Regions from separate parts of the Homo sapiens genome. Here region 2 is linked to region 1. The links come from fine-mapping of genetic effects on gene expression. Tissue or cell type: whole blood. Region 1 holds a variant in brackets; the other region holds the start of a gene. All regions are shown on one strand. Distances are between the middles of the regions.

Region 1 (5,377 bases):
TTCATCTTATTAGAGAGGTGCAAATGGAGACCGTGTGAGGAACAGTGAAGGAATCTGATCATACTCTGTTGGGGATGATGTGGAGGTACTGGAATTCTCATCCACTGTGGCAGAGGAAAGGAAGAATGTTAGTCAATACAAGCACTTCAGAAAATCACTTGGCAGCATCTTGTAAAGCTAATTATGTGCATACCCAATGACCCACAATTACAGTCTGAGGTAGGTAGCTTAGAGGAACTCCTACATGTGTGCACCAAGACATAGGTGTAAGAATGATCATGGCAGCCTTATTGGTGATAGCGAAAAACTGGAAACAATCCATGTGCTCATCAACTGGAGAATGGATAAAGTCACTGAATTCTATTTGACAACGGAGTACTAGACAGCAGGAAAAAGGAATGAAGGCCAGCCAAAAGTGCAAAATCATGTACGTATTTTAGAAACATAGTGATGCATGAAAAAATCAAGCCAAAGAAGAATGCACATGCATTGTGCTGTTTATATAAAGATCAAAAAACAAACGTAATAATGTGTTGCACAGGATCCTCCCCATTTGGTAAAATTATTTTTTTTTTCAAAGCAAGGGCATGGAATGATAACCACAAAATTCAGGATAGTGTTTACTTCTGGAGGAAGGCAGGGAATAGGACTGGGGAGGCACACACAGGTGGCCTCAGTGGTGCTGGTGAAGGCCTAGTTCCTAAGCTGGGGCCATGGGTTCACAGGTGTTTGTCTTCATATGCCAGATATTCAACACACATTTTTTGTAATCATCAAATATTACATAGTAAGTTTTGTTTTTTTTAAAAAAATGTAGTTCCTAGGGTTGTTGTAAAAATTAAATGGGGCCGGGTACGGAGGCTCATGCCTGTTATCCCAGCACTTTGGGAGGCCAAGGTGGGTGGATCACCTGAGGTCAGGAGTTCGAGACCAGCCTGGCCAACATGGTGAAACCTAGGCCCTACTAAAAATACAAAAATTAGCTGGGTGTAGTGGCTCATGCCTATAATCCTAGCTACTTCAGAGGCTGAGGCAGGAGAATTGCTTGAACCCAGGAAGCAGAGGTTGCAGTGAGCTGAGATCATGCCACTGCACTCCAACCTGGGCGACAAGAGCGAAACTCTGTCAAAAAAAAGAAGAATTAAATGGGAGTGCAGACAGATTTGTTTATTCATTCAACAAACATCTGCCATATGCCAGGCATCCTCTGAGATGCCAGGGAAGATACAAAAAAGGAGAAGACTATGCAACTGGGACAAGGTGGCTCAAGATTAGAACAGCTAACAGTACCAGCTTTGGATCCAGAGAGACCTGGGTACAAATCCCAACTCTGCTACTTACTAGCTTTGTGACCTTGGGCAAGCTACCTAACCTCCCTCTTCCTCAGTTTTTTCATCTGTAAGTCAGGAATAATAATCATGTAAATGGTATGAGGCTGAGCTAAAGCTACAAAGATTGACTGGCTTGACATGGTACTGAGCATTGGGTAAGAGCTCAGTAAATGTCACTGAGGCAGGAGAATGGCGTGAACCCAGGAGGCGGAGCTTGCAGTGAGCCAAGATCGCGCCACTGCACTCCAGCCTGGGCGACAGAGTGAGACTCGGTCTCAAAAAAAAAAAAAAAAAAGGCTGTTAGAATCATCCAGGTGAGAGATTATGGAGTCCTGAACTAGGGGACCTGGGGTGCAGAGGGACAGGAAGACTAGGAAGAAGGGGACAGATTCTGGAGCAAAACTGGGGAGATAAAATGGATTGGATTGGAAAGCTGGATGAGGAGCTGAGGAGCAGACCTCACCTGGGACAATATCCAGGTGTGTTGCCCTGAGACAGAGAAACCAGAAGAGGCAGGTGGCAGGGGAGAGTGAGATGATGAGTTTGGAGCTGGTCAAGTTGAGTTGGATGCAGGGGAGTTGCCAAGCAGAGATGTCTAGGAGGTGCTGTGTTTATGAATCAGGGACTCAGGAAGGGCAGAGCTCAGCTTAAAGAAGGTAACTGGGAGTGGGTGAGTTGTCCTGGGAGGATGTAGAGGCTGCGCAGTAGGCCGAGGTGCCCATGACTGCGGAGGCAGGAGGAGGAAGGGCTGCGGGGGCCTGCAAGGGAGCTGCTAGCTAGATAGGAGGAAGACGAAGAAGGGGATCCAAACTTGCCCTGAAGTTGAGGGAGGTGACAGCTTGGAGGAGAAAGGTGAGGTCCACTCCAGAGTCAGGTGTCACAGAAGGGCTGAGAAGAGGTCACTGGATCTAGCCATCAGGGTTGTCCATGCCCTGGGCAGGAACATTTTCCTGGTGTGAGGGGGACTGGACTCTGGAGAAGCTCAACGGTGAAAAGTCTTTCTCAGTGCACCCAGGGTGAATCATGGCCCCTTCCCAGCCGAGGTCCATTCTGCCTGCTTCTTCATCCTGCCCCTCACACTCCATGGATGGTACTCCGTGCCTAGTCCTGGTTGGTCTATACACTCCAGGAGCAATCGCTAGGAATCACGATAAGTGTATTCTCCATTTGAGCCTTGTTTCAGTCAGTCCTGAGAGGTCTGTATTATTTTCACCCCCATTTTACAAATAAGCAGACTGAGGCTCTGCCCCACGTGCCCAAGACTGGGGATAGGTTTCATCCCTAACTTGTGGGTCGCATTTGAGAACAGGAAACCCACATCATCTGAACCTACAACATCCAGACTCGGTGGTTCTCAAACTTCAGCCTGCCTACAAATCACCTGAGATTCCTATGAATTCTGCTCTTGGGCCCCAAACTGCAGGAATTGATCGAGCAGGTGTGAAGCCGTATTTGGAGATGTGTGTTGTTAACCAGCACCCCAGGTGGTTCCCATGCAGGTGACCGAAGTCCACCCTTGAGGAAGCATTAACCCAACCCTGTGCGGCACAGAGGGTATTTCAGGCACTGGATTGGTCTGGACCCCAAGCAACCGGTTTCTGGCGATCAGTTAGGGCTCTGGCTGCAGCTGGGAGCGGATTGGGGCGGAGGGAGGCAGAGGGCGGTAATAAAGAAACAACAGGAAGCTCTGCTTTTATTAGCCCTGGGTAGTAGCAGCTGCAGGTGAGTAATCTGATTTCTGCGGCGTCCTGTTTTCTCCGCTGCCTGGCGGTTCCTCGACACCCACTCACCTGCCGCCAGCCACGGGAGAGAGGGCAGGGGGGAGGGAGGATGGGCGTGGGGCCCCGCCCGCCCAGGTCCCTCGCCCACGCCCACGCGGGCGCACCCGCCGCGCCGACGCCGCCACCGGCTGCGCACCTGCCGCGCTTGCTGCGGGGAAGCCAGGCTCTGCTGTGGCGGCGGCGGCGGCGGCGGCGGCTGGCGGGGAGGAGACGCGGAC[T/G]CCCACTCGCGGCCCTATCGCTTGCTCCCCGCCTCCCCGCCAGAGCTGCGCCACCAGGCTCTGGGCGCGCTCCCATGATCGGAAGGCTGAGAGCCGTCTCCCAGCTCCACCCTTGACTTCTGAACCTCAGTTGCTGCTTCTGTCAAATGGGAGCACGTCCACCTACCAGTGCTAGACTGGAGAGATCAGGAAAGGGGTGCTAAAGTTACAAACTGTAAAGGGCTGTAGCGATCACCAAGGCATCGGAAGGAAACTGGCCAAGAAAGGCAAGTCTCTTAGCTTTGCTGGGCCTCGGTTTCCTTATCTGTAACATGGGAATGAGTAACCCTTCCTCATAAGCAGATGATGCTCGTGACGTGGATGGAACGCAGAGCAGGACAAGGGCAGTGGCTGCCGTGGGGTCATTATTACTGTTGCTGTTAGCCCAGGCCAGAATCTGCATTCCCTCTTCTTACTTGGATACCCCGGTTTTCCCTGGTTCTCAGCACACGTTTAGGAAATGGGGGGCTTGGATCACAAAAGGATTTTCAGGGTCAGGGGCTTGCCCAAGACTGGGGATTGGCTCCATCCCTAACTCTCTGAACCAAGCTTTCCATCTGTAAAATGGGGTTGACAACAACTTCCCTGAAACCCACAGACATATAAAGACCAATGAGAAACTCAGAAACACCTGGTAAACTGCGAAGTACTACCCACATGCAAAGACTGTAATTATTTCTTCCAGGTGCCTCTTTGCCCTAAAGAGTCAAGGATGAGTCAAGAACCAAATGAGATGAGCCAGGAGGATCCCTGTGAGAAGGGCCGGATGGCATTCCCCTTTACCCATGGAGCTCACTGCAGTGTGCAGCGATGGCCCAAGGGTGGAGAGGAAGGTCAGGCTGGGTCCTGCCCTTGGGGGCTCATGTCCCAGTTAGCCCACGACGCAAAGGCCCAGGTGTGATGGGAGCACAGAAGAGGGGGGAAGCCGACTCTCTGGGCAAGGGGGATCAGGCTGGTACAGGGGGTACTTCCCAGAGGAGTCAGCCTTGACGGGACTCTCTGAAAAATGGTTGTAGCTCAGGTGGGGAGAGGGGCAAGGCACGTGCTGGACAGAGACGGATTCCAGCAGAAAAGTCCAGAGACAAGAAAGGGGGTAGTGTGCTCAGGAAAAGGGCGTGAAACGTGACTGAAATGCAGGATGGGGAGAGGAAATGGATTCAAGATAAAGTCAAATTGGAGCCGGGCATGGTGGTGCACGCCTGTAATCCCAGCTACTTGGGAGGCTGAGGCAGAAGAATCACTTGAACCCCAGAGGCAGAATTTGCAGTGAGCCAAGATCACACCACTGCACTCCAGCCTGGGTGACAGAGTGAGACTCTGTCTCAAAAAAAAAATTTAAAAAAAAAAAAAGATGAAGTCGAATTGGGAATGGCCTCCAGTTACCACCCTAGGAAGCTCAGACTTTATCCTGAGGTTGACAGGGAGCCACGCAGGGTTTGCAGCAGGAGTGACATGGTCAGTTGTGGGTTCTAGAAAGATCTCTGTGGTAGGCTGGGCATGGTGGCTCACACTTGTAATCCCAGCACCTTGGGAGGCCAAGGCAGGTGGATCACTTGAGGTCAGGAATTCAAGACCAGCCTAGCCAACATAGTGAAACCCCGTCTCTACTAAAAATACAAAAATTAGCCAGGTGTGGGGGTACGTGTCTATAGTCCTAGCTACTTGGGAGGCTGAGGCAGGAGAATTGCTTGGACCCGCGAAGCGGAGGTTGCCGTGAGCCGAGATTGCACCACTACACTCCAGCCTGGCCAACAGAGTGAGACTCCATCTCAAAAAAAAAAAAAATCTCCATAATAGGTATGGAGGATGGACAAAGGGGGAGGAAAGGGAGGACAGATTCAAGTTGTTGTGGTGAGCTGAAGGAGGCCTGAACCAAGGTAATGGCAATGGGGTGGGGTGGGGGGGAGTTGGGCAAGAACTTTCTGAAACTGAACAGCAGTAGATCCAGGAGAACAATTAGAGGGAGAGACACAAAATAAAGGTGACAGAATTTCCTGTATCAGGAGCT
Region 2 (5,377 bases), 7.7 kb before region 1:
CAGCTCACTGCAACCTCTGCCTCCCAGGTTCCAGCGATTCTCCTGCTGCAGCCTCCTGGGTAGCTGGGATTACAGGCGCACACCACCACGCCTGGCTTATTTTTGTATTTTTAGTAGAGACGAGGTTTTACCATGTTGGCCAGGCTGGTCCTGAACTCCTGACTTCAGGTGATCCACCCACCTCAGCCTCCCAAAGTGCTAGGATTACAGGCATGAGGCGCCACACCTGGCCTGCTGGTTTTTAAAAAAATGTTCACTTAATAATATATTATAAACATATTCTCAAGTTTCATGAAGTATCCTTTCACAATATCATTTTTGATGGCCCCTTAGTATTCATTATATGGCTCTATCATAATTTTAACAACCAACCCTTGTATGGTTGGACATTGATGTCATTTCCAATTTTTCACTACTATAAAAAAAGTTCCGTGAACATCCCTGCATCTTTTTGACATTGGGTAAGAATTACCTGAGGGTAAATTCCTAGACTGAGGATTCAGGAGTCAAAGGACTTGCCTCACACTAGGGTAATAGCAATTCACACTTTCACTGATAATGCCTGAGACTCTCCAGCTACCCACATCCTCAGCAATATAGAAACAGTCTCCCTCAGACTGCCAGGCTAGAGTGCAGTGGCATGATCACGGTTCACTGTAGCCTTGACCTCCTGAGCTCAAGCCATCCTCCCACTTCAGCCACCTGCATAGCTGGGACCACAGGCACGTGCCACCATGCAGGGCTACTTTTTAAAATTTTTTTGTAGAGCCAGGGTCTCACCATGTTGCCCAGGTTGGTTTTGAAGTCCTGTGTTCCAGCAATCCACCCACCTCAGCCTCCCAAAGTACTGGGATTATAGGCATCAGCCATCGCACCCAGCCCTCACCAATATTATTATTATTATTATTATTATTATTATTATTATTATTATTATTATTATTTTAAGACAGGGTCTCACTGTGTTACTCAGGCTGGAGTGCAGTGGACACCAACAAATAGCTTCCCAGTTATGCAAACGCTTTCATCTACTTAACGTATATTGATTCAACACCTACCATGAGCCAGGCACTCTTCAGGATAATATAGCAGAGGATGGCACAAAGTCTCTGCTGATGATGAGGACTACAACATTCTAGTGGGAGAGACATACAGTAAACAAAGGTCAGTTCTACAGTGATGAATGCCATGAAGAAACGACAAGCAGGAGAGAGGGCTAGACAGTGGGAGAGGTGAGAGAGGATTAGGGTGCTATTGTATGTATAACAGGATGGCCAGAGAAACTTGCCTAGTGATGAGCGGAAGTGAGCCCTGTCATGGATAAATGGGCAGGGGCAGTTACCTTCTCTAGGCAGAGGGAATACAAGGGCGAAGACCGGGAGGCGTGATTGTGCTTGGCTGCTCGAAGAACAGCAAGGAGGCCAGTGGGGCTGGGGCAAGGGAGGGAAAAGCAACAGGAGGTAAGGTGGGGAGGGGTGTGCACAGCTCAGGTAGGACTTTCTAGGCCACAGAACGGTGTTAAGATTTTCTCTGAGTGAGAGGGGAGCCACTGGGGCATTTGAACAGAGGAAGGAAGTAATTTGACTCATGTTTTAAAAAGATCACATTGGCTGGGTGCGGTGGCTCATGCTTGTAATCCCAGCACTTTGGGAGGCCGAGGTGGGCAGATCATCTGAGGTCAGGAGTTCGAGACCAGCCTGGCCAACATGGTGAAACCCCGTCTCTACTAAAAACACAAAAATTAGCCGGGCGTGGTGGTGGGGGCCTGTAATCCTAGCTACTGGGGAGGCTAAGGCATGAGAATCACTTGAACCCGGGAGGTGAAGGTTGCAGTGAGCCGAGATTGCACCACTGTACTCCAGCCTGGGGGATAGAGCGAGACTTTGCCTCCAAAATAATAATAATAATAATAATAATAAATGAATAAATGAAAAGATCACATTGGTTATTCTATGGGGTATAAAGGCAGCAGGGAGTGCTAGGATGAAAGCAGGGATGCCCAGCACGGTGGCTCACACCTGTAATCCCAGCACTTTGGGAGGTCGAGACAGGCGGATCACGAGGTCAGGAGATCGAGACCATCCTGGCTAACACGGTGAAATCCCGTCTCTGTTAAAAATAAAAATAAAAAAAATTAGCCAGGCGTGGTGGTGGGCGCCTGTAGTCCCAGCTACTCGGGAGGCTGAGGCAGGAGAATGGTGTGAACCCAGGAGGCGGAGCTTGGAGCGAGCTGCCCTCCAGCCTGGGCAACAGAGCGAGACTCCGTCTAAAAAAAAAAAATTGGCCGGGCGCGGTGGCTCACGCCTGTAATCCAGCACTTTGGGAGGCCGAGGTGGGCGGATCACGAGGTCAGGAGATCGAGACCATCCTGGCTAACACGGTGAAACCCCGTCTCTACTAAAAATACAAAAAATTAGCCGGGCGAGGTGGCGGGCGCCTGTATTCCCAGCTACGCGGGAGGCTGAGGCAAGAGAATGTCGTGAACCCGGGAGGCGGAGCTTGCAGTGAGAGGAGATGGCGCCACGGCACTCCAGCCTGGGCGACAGCAAGACTCCGTCTCAAAAAAAAAAAAAAAAAAAAAGAAAGAAAGCAGGGAACGTCACTGAGAGGCTCTTACACAACTCCAGGCAAGAAACAGTGGTGCCTCGGACACAGGTAGTAACGGTGGAGACGGTGAGATTGCGGAAGCTTTGGAAGGTGGAGCTCATGCTATTCCTGATGGGTCAGTTTGGGGTGTAGAGATGGGACAGTTGAGTTTGTCAGCGGGAGGTCATCGATGACCTTGACAAGAGCAGTTTCAGTGGAGCGATGGGGGTGAAAGCCCCACAGAGAGAGCTGGAGAGAGAAAAGGAAGGAGGGATGAAGATGGTCAATTCAGAAAACACTGAGATGTTTTCCTGGAAGGGGGAGCAAAGAAATATGACGGTGTGGGTGTGGGGGTGTGTGTGCATGGGCTTGTGCATGTGTGTGTGTGTGTGTACAATTGGAAGAACTGCAGCCGATTGTGTGGTGATGTGAATGAGCCAGCAGAAGAGGGGGACCCCTGGAGCTGTGGGAGAGACGCAAGGAATTGCTCACTGTTGTCCTGGAGGAGGTGAGAGAGGATGAAGGGCAGTGTCCCAGTGGAGGGCGTAGAATTCAAGTTCCACAAGGCGTCCAGGTAACAGGCACGGATACAGGCGGGAGTGAAGGGAGAGGTGGAGTCTGAGGAAGTTTCCTTCTGATTGCTTCTGTTTCCCAGTGAAACAGAAAGCAAGGTCTCCAGCAGCTGACAGCTAGTACAGCAGGTTCTTTTTTTCTCAGGTGTTATAGATAGCTGCGCCTTCCGCTCACCACAGGTGAAATGGTTGGCTTGTATCTGGGGCCACACCACATAAAAACCATTTGAACAGCAGGATCACACTCAGCATGATGAGAGCCCACATGAGGCTGGAAGTGCAGGAACTTGGACCGGCGGGGGGAACCTGGCAGGTCACATTCCCTCTCAAGGGGTGAGTGCTCACCAAGTGGAATTGGAGTGTGACTCTGTAGCAGTGATTCATGCACAACGTGCTCTCTCTCTCTCTCCCCTCCCTTTACACGCGTGTTTAAATGTGTGTAAATTAGGCTGGGTGCAGTGGCTCACGCCCGTAATCCCAGCACTTTGGGAGGCCAAGGTGGGCAGATCACTTGAGGCCGGGAGTTCGAGACCAGCCTGGGCAACCTGGTGAAACACCGTCTCTGTGAAAAATACAAAAATTAGCCGGGCGTGGTGGTGCACATCTATAACCGCAGCTACTTGGGAGGCTGAGGCATGAGAATCACTTGAGCCCAGGAGGTGGAGGTTGCAGTGAGCCGAGATCACGCCATTGCACCCCAGCCTGGGTGACAGAGCAAGACCCTGTCTCAAAGAGAAAAAAAAAATGTGTGTAAGTTAAATGCACCATGATGAAGACTCCACTATAAATGGTGCCGCTGGAACCTCGGGCCTCCTGACTCCACATCAGTTTTGTCTCTACTATAATACTCCATCTCTCATCACACATCACTAGGGAGCACCAAAATTGCAGGGAAGAGGGTAACCCAGGCTGAAAGGAGGAAGAGAGCACTTAAACTAGAAAATTCTAGAACATCAGACCTCGATGGACCTTCACAGATCATTTGGTCCAACACCCTTATTTGACAGACATGGAAAATGTCATTCACTGACTCCCCCAATATCACACAACAGAATCCTCATCATCCCCATCATCATCCCCATCATCATCATCCCCATCATCATCATCACCATCACCATCATCCCCATCATCATCATCCCCATCACCATCATCCCCATCACCATCATCCCCACCATCATCATCCCCATCATCACCATCATCCCCATCATCATCATCCCCATCACCATCATCCCCATCACCATCATCCCCACCATCATCATCCCCATCATCATCATCACCATCATCATCATCCCCATCATCATCACCATCACCACCATCATCATCATCCCCAACATCACCATCATCATCATCCCCATCATCATCACCATCACCATCACCATCATCATCATCCCCATCACCATCATCACCATCACCATCAACATCACCATCATCACCATCACCATCATCCCCATCATCACCATCATCATCACCATCACCATCATCCCTATCATTATCATCCTCCTCCTGATCACCATAATTGTCATCTGCATGGAAGCTAGCCTATATTGATTACTCCCTGCTGCCAAGCTGTGTCCCATTTCATCATCAAAGCCTCTTGAGGTGGCCACTCTCATTATTTTCATTTTACAGGTGGTGAAACATCACAGAGCAGGTAAGGTATAAACTGGGAGACCCTCCTCCCACCCACTCTGTGAAAACCTTTACTAGAGATCTCGCATTGGGCCACTAACCCTAAGATAGGAGGCAGAAGGGGGCTCCCCTTGAAACTCGAAAGAAGTAAATTTAAGACCAGTAAAGGGAAGTTTTGCTTCACACAGAGGGGGTACTGGCTAAAAATACTAGTGGCTTCAAGAAGTATTTAGATCAGTTCATAGATAGTTGATCACAAGGCAGTCAGAGTGATCTTTTAAAGACATAAATTAGGCTGAGCATGGTGGCTCACGCCTGTAATTCCAACACTTTGGGAGGCCAAGGCAGGCGGATCACTTGAGGTCAGGAGTTTGAGACCAGCCCAGCCAACATGGCAAAACCCTGCCTCTACTAAAAAAAAAAAAAAAATTTCCTTGTTGTGGTGGTGGGCACCTGTAATCCCAGCTACTCTGGAGGCTGAGGCATGAGAATCACTTGAACCTGGGAGACAGAGGTTGCAGTAAGCCGAGATCACACCACTGCACTCCAGCCTGGGTGACAGAGCAAGACTCTTGTTTCAATAAAATAAAATA

What was found.
Region 2: MDS2 starts here. The variant in region 1 is fine-mapped to the expression of MDS2 in whole blood (TOPMed, PIP above 0.99).

Annotation. Positions count from the first base shown.
Region 1 is chr1:23,617,501-23,622,877 of GRCh38, reverse strand. No RefSeq gene overlaps it. Among named protein-coding and RNA genes, the nearest start is that of MDS2, 7.1 kb to the left of the region's middle. RefSeq lists a silencer at 3,090-3,359 and enhancers at 2,865-3,365, 3,366-3,866. The variant T/G (reference allele first, on the strand shown) is at 3,331.
Region 2 is chr1:23,625,236-23,630,612 of GRCh38, reverse strand. It overlaps MDS2 (myelodysplastic syndrome 2 translocation associated), which reads right to left and starts at 3,279. Exons shown (of 6, transcript NR_167910.1): 1 at 3,076-3,279; 2 at 2,615-2,832; 3 at 2,016-2,106; 4 at 1,056-1,132. RefSeq lists an enhancer at 4,706-4,825.